2 separate regions of the Homo sapiens genome follow, and region 2 is reported to be linked to region 1. The links are microRNA targets in miRTarBase. Many come from high-throughput screens and were not tested one by one. Region 1 holds a microRNA gene; the other region holds the end of a gene's coding sequence.

Region 1 (3,000 bases):
ATTTTTGGCCGGGCGCAGTGGCTCATGCCTGTAATCCCAGCACTGTGGGAGGCTGAGGCGGGCGAATCACTTGAGGTCAGGAGTTCGAGACCAGCCTGGCCAACATGGTGAAACCCAGACTCTACTAAATATATATATATATACAAAAATTAGCCAGACGTGGTGGCGGGCGCCTGTAATCCCAACTACTTGGGAGGCTGAGGCAGGAGAATCACCTGAACCTGGAAGGCGGAGGCTGCAGTGAGCCAAGATCATGCCACTATACCCCAGCCTGGGCGACAGAGGGAGACTCTGTCTTTTAAAAAAAAAAAAAAGGTAAATTTTCTGTTACATACATTTTATCACACACACACACACACACACACACGCACACACACACACAAAGAGGCAAGGGAGAAAGAACAGGCTTTGCAAAATGATTCTGCAAATGGCCAAATAGGAAGGATTTTCAGCTTTGTAGGCCGCATAGTCTCTGTTGCAACTACACAACTCTGCTCTTATAACACAAAAGCAACCACAGGTAATAAGATAAAAATGGGTGTGACCACGTCCCAATAAAACTATTAGTCAAAGCCGGCAGCGGACCACAGCAGGCCTGTGGACTGCAGTTTGCCAACTCCTAAGCGGTGTGGTTTGGCGTGTATGTTTATGAACAGAATGTCCCTGGAAAGTTGGTAACAGTGATGTCGCCAAAAAGGGGAACTGGGTGACCAGGCAGAGGAGGGAGAACCTTCATGTGTGGTCTTGGGTGCTTTCTATTTTGACCCTGTGAATGGGACCTATTCACCAAATTTGAAACAAACAAGAGAGAAAAAGAAAGCTTGAGGCCAGGCACGGTGGCTCACTGCCTGCAATCCCAGCACTTTGGGAGGCCGAGGCAGGCAGATCACGAGGTCAGGAGATCGAGACCATCCTGGTTAACGGTGAAACCCCGTCTCTACTAAAAATACAAAAAAATTAGCCAGGTGTGGTGGTAGACGCCTGTAGTCCCAGCTACTCGGGAGGCTGAGGCAGGAGAATGGCATGAACCCAGGAGGCAGAGCTTGCAGTGAACCGAGATCGAACCACTGCACTCCAGCCTGGGCAACAGAGCGATAAAAAAAACACCATGAGAAAAAGGAAGTTTGACAACTCTGCCTGTCAGGGCCTGGGGGTCAGAGACAGTTCCCTGGGCAGAGGCACTCAGGGGCACAAGGTGGTCGGTCTTAGAAAGATGCTCAGCAGTGAGCAGGAACAGACCCCAGAGGGGAGGCAGGAAGGCCAGGCCGGAGGCTAAGGGCCTCGCACACACAGCGCTGGCTGGACGGCTTCAAAGCCAGTCCGGGGGCCCCGGGAGGGGAGGAAAGGAGAGAGGAAGGGCTCGCCCCAGGACGCGAGGCTCACCCCAGCACCACGTTGGCGTAGAGTTCCCGCGCCGTCCTGGTCTCGCGCTTCCTGGAGATCTCCGCGTCGTACCAGAAGCCCCGCTCCTTGGGGTTGTCGGGGTTGTAGTTGAGCATGACCACCTGGCCCACCTCCAGGTCCTGCCACTTGATGATGGTGCGGGCGCGCGCTCGGACGTCCCTGGAGTTCATCTGGACCACGCCGTTCTCCGGGTAGCTGGGAGGAAAGCCCGGGCCTTAGACCCCGTGCTAAGACCAAGCCTCCTTCCCTCAATGGGAAACGAGCCGAGGTGGGACGGCCCCTCCCGACAGTGTGCAGAGGCCCCTCCCAACAGGCTTATATGCTGGTGTTGAGAACACACAGGTATATTAAGGCACATTCCAGGTACAAAATTGTTATGGGTTGCCCGTGTCCCCTGCAAAAAGAGATGTTCAAAGGCTGATCCCCAGTACCCACGAATAGGATTGTTTTTGGAAACAGGGTCTTTGTAGATAGAACCTTTGCAGATGAAATCATATTAAGATGAGATCACACTGCAGTAGGGTGGGCCCCAATCCAACAGGACTGGTGTCTTTAGAACAAGAGGAGAGGCCGGGCAAGGTGGCCCACGCCTGTAATCCCAGCACTTTGGGAGGCCGAAGCGGGAAGATCACCTGAGGTCAGGAGTTCAAGACCAGCCTGACCAACACGGTGAAACCCTGCCTCTACTAAAAATACAAAAATTAGCCAGGCATGGCCGGGCACGGTGGCTCATGCCTGTAATCCCAGCACTTTGGGAGGCTGAGGCAGGCAGATCATCTGAGGTCGGAAGTTGGAGACCAGCCAACATGGAGAAACCCCATCTCTACTAAAAATACAAAATTAGCCAGGCGTGGTGGCGCATGCCTGTAATCCCAGCTACTCGGGAGGCTGAGGCAGAATTGCTTGAACCCGGGAGGCAGAGGTTGCGGTGAGCCGAGATCGCGCCATTGACGCCAGCCTGGGCAACAAGAGTGAAACTCTGTCTCAAAAACAAAACAAAAACAAAAATTAGCTGGGCGCAGTGGTGCACGCCTGTAGTCCCAGCCACTTGGGAGGCTGAGGCAGGAGAATCGTTTGAACCCGGGAGATGGAGGGTGCAATGAGCCAAGATCACACCATTGCACTCCAGCCTGGGGGACAGAGTGAAACTGTCTCAAAAAAATAAAATAAGCTGGGCACAGTGGCTCACACCTGTAATCCCAACACTCTGGGAGGCTGAGGCGGGCGGAACACGAGGTCAGAAGTTTGAGACCAGCCTCACCTACATAGTGAAACCCCATCTCTTCTGAAAATACAAAAATTAGCCAGGCGTGGTGGCCACACACCTGTAATCCCAGCTACTTGGGAGGCTGAGGCAGGAGAATCGCTTGAACCTGGGAGGCGGAGGTTGCAGTGAGCTGAGACCACGCCATTGCACTCTAGCCTGAGTGACAGAGTAAGACTCTGTCTCGAAAAAATAAAATAAAAATAAAATAAAATAAAAATACAAACATTAGCTGGGTGTGGTGGCGGGCACCTGTAGTCCCAGCTACTCAGGAGGCTGAGGCAGGAGAATCGCTTGAATCCAGGAGGCAGAGGTTGCAGTGAGCAAGTCAA
Region 2 (3,000 bases), not on the chromosome of region 1:
AGGTTTATAAAATTTAAGAAACTTTCTAGGAAGTGGCAAATAACTAAAGTAAGTGGCAGAGCTGGTTAAAACCCGGATCTTTTTCTCTCCAACCTTTTCACTACACCACACTGAAAAGTCTTCTCTATCCCTTAAAACAAGAGCCTTTGTTATCTTCTGCATTCTCTTCCCATGATGTTCTGCTTCTCTTCTAGATGAGCTTTGCCGTCAGATGGCTGGTCTGCCCCCTAGGAGACTCCGTCGCTCCAATTACTTCCGACTTCCTCCCTGTGAAAATGTGGATTTGCAGAGACCCAATGGTCTGTGATCATTGAAAAAGAGGAAAGAAGAAAAAATGTATGGGTGAGAGGAAGGAGGATCTCCTTCTTCTCCAACCATTGACAGCTAACCCTTAGACAGTATTTCTTAAACCAATCCTTTTGCAATGTCCAGCTTTTACCCCTACTCTCTACTTTTTCACCCAAACTGATAACATTTATCTCATTTTCTAGCACTTAAAATACAAAGTCTATATTATTGCATAATTTTGCTGCTTCTCAATATCATAGACACAGTGAATAGATGATGACTATATGGCTTATATACAAACATTCTATGTACAATTTCAAGGGAGACTAAACTTTAGGCTAATAATCTTTACTATTGAATCTGTCTGATATAGATCTTAGGGTTGAAGAAGCTATCTTTGTCTATTTGGGCTAACCATAGAATTTCATTTATTTTCCTCACAATATTTTCCTAGACCAACTCCCCATCATTCACGTGTTCCTCTTTACTCTTACTTTAACTATTTTGCTGGCTTGCCCGAAAATTTGCCTGGCAAGTCTTCCTTATAAGACACATCATGGTAAGTTTTGTAGTCCTGTAAGATTCTGCAACACAGTCAAGAATTATACAATCCTACTAGCAATATATAAGGACCCAAAATGTCTTCTGCTAAGCTCAGAGGCTGGGGCTAAAGCATGAGGACTATGCCAGCTATAGAACTTGGACTCATAATTCGCTATCCAATTTTTCATGCAGTTGTCTAGTCGGGAAGTAAGGTTGGAAACTAAGTCTCATTTACTGATTCGTTTATGGGTAGTACCGGGATGAACCCACCACCACAAAGCAAATTAGACAACTTAATGTGAAATCATACCATTGGTTGACGTTTCCTTGAGTTGCTACTTCGTTCATCTTCACAACTTAACAAGTGCACGGTCGAATTATTGTGCAAGTGGCTTTTGGATATCCTGATTGGGGCCTAAGAAGGGCATTCAGACTTGAATTTTAATAGGCAGACAGAAAGTTTGCCTAATAGTTAATACGAAAGAGTGAAAGAAACACAATATTCAGACAACCCACATTCTTATCCTGGCTCTAGCAGTAACCACGTAGCCTTGGATAAGCCATTTTCCTTCATTAGGTCCTGGTTTAATTTCCTCATCTTTAAAATGAGAAGGTTAAATTTATCTTAGTACTGCTGGGCGCAGTGGCTCATGCCTGTAATCTGAGCACTTTGGGAAGCTGAGGCGGGTGGATCACTTGAGGTCAGAAATTTGAGACGAGCCTGGCCAACATGGTGAAACCCCATCTCTACTAAAAATACAAAAATTAGCTGGGCGTGGTGGCACGTGCCTGTAATCCCAGCTACTCGGGAGGCTGAGGCAGGAGAATCAATTGAACCTGGGAGGCAGAGGTTGCAGTGAGCCGAGATGGCGCCATTGCACTCCAGCCTGGGTGACAAAAGCAAAAGTCCATCTTAAGAAATATATATATATATTATATATATTCTTAGTTCTAAGATTTCCTTTAATTCTATGATTCTCTGGATTTAAATGCATTATTCATATTTCTTGAAGCTTAGATACAGTCTAATTCATAGCAACCATATCTGCTTTATCCTAGGTGAGGGTAGCAGTCCACAATGGAATAGAAGAAAATCCCATTATAACAAATGACAAATTATATATCATGAATCCTTCTGTCTGACTAACTCAATAACTTTCTATAAAAGCCAATGGAATTCAAATAGGAGCTAGGAGACAACAAGTTATATATGACAGTGGAGGTTGTATTCCTTTTATATTGCTGAGAAAACTAGTTAAATGATCAGATTCTTGCTGTTAAGAAACAATTTCGTTTAATGGGATCTGTACAACTGATTTTAAAAAAATGCTACAAAAAGCCCCAAAGCATATAATCTCTACTCCTTACAGTCTCTAGAATTAAATGTACTCATTTAGACAACATATTAAATGCATATTTTAGCCACTTTAGAGAAACCTCATAGGCACAGAGTTTCCAAGATTAATTTTAAGAATATCTTCACGAACTTGACCCTCCTACTCCACATTGCAACATTTCCATCAGACAGCATTTCAATTCCAGTATTATGTATATTGCAAATTAAACATTTTAAAATATTTTTTTCCAATTTATTTCTCAAAATAAAATGTCTTTTGTTCTGGTTCTTTTTCTCTTCTATGTTTACGAAAAAGGCCTGAATTTATGAACTTTTATTCCACTTTAAAAAATGTGTATCAGCCGGGCGTGGTGGCTCACGCCTGTAATCCCAGCACTTTTGGAGGCTGAGGTGGGCGGATCACCTGAGGTCAGGAGTTTGAGACCAGCCTGGCCAACATGATAAAACCCTGTCTCTAAGAAAGATACAAAAAAATTACCCAGGCATGGTGGCGGGTGCCTGTAATCCCAGCTACTCGGGAGGCTGAGGCAAGAGAATCGCTTGAATCAGGGAGGTGGAGGTTGCAATGAGCCAAGATCATGCCACTGCACTCCAGCCTGGGCAACAACAGTGAAATTCCGTCTCAAAAAATAAAAGAAGATTCAGAAGAAAGTTTTTACTCATTAAGGTGTTAATATATTTTTTTTCCTGGTGAGCCCAAATGACAACCTTGCTAAGCAATGGCTTTCAATGAAAAGCCATTTTTTAAACCAAAATAATGGATCTTTAATGTTAGAATTAAAGAATTTGGTAAAAATATCAGTAGATATTGA

What was found. The annotated mature microRNA hsa-miR-4747-3p reads AAGGCCCGGGCUUUCCUCCCAG and lies in region 1 at 1,600-1,621, opposite strand. An mRNA with a match to its seed (bases 2 to 7 or 8) in the 3' UTR can be bound and repressed. Matches are read on the target gene's strand: a 7mer-m8 pairs with bases 2 to 8, a 7mer-A1 pairs with bases 2 to 7 and ends in A, and an 8mer does both.
Region 2: miRTarBase lists MFAP5 as a target of hsa-miR-4747-3p. Seed matches in the 3' UTR shown: 7mer-A1 at 1,243-1,249.

Annotation. Positions count from the first base shown.
Region 1 is chr19:4,931,340-4,934,339 of GRCh38, reverse strand. MIR4747 (microRNA 4747) reads right to left here and starts at 1,653; the gene lies at 1,600-1,653. It overlaps UHRF1 (ubiquitin like with PHD and ring finger domains 1), which reads right to left. Exons shown (of 17, transcript NM_001048201.3): 5 at 1,384-1,599.
Region 2 is chr12:8,645,398-8,648,397 of GRCh38, reverse strand. MFAP5 (microfibril associated protein 5) reads left to right here. Exons shown (of 10, transcript NM_003480.4): 10 at 195-2,455. The coding sequence ends at 307. Among named protein-coding and RNA genes, the nearest start is that of MFAP5, 16 kb to the left of the region's middle. RefSeq lists an enhancer at 1-521.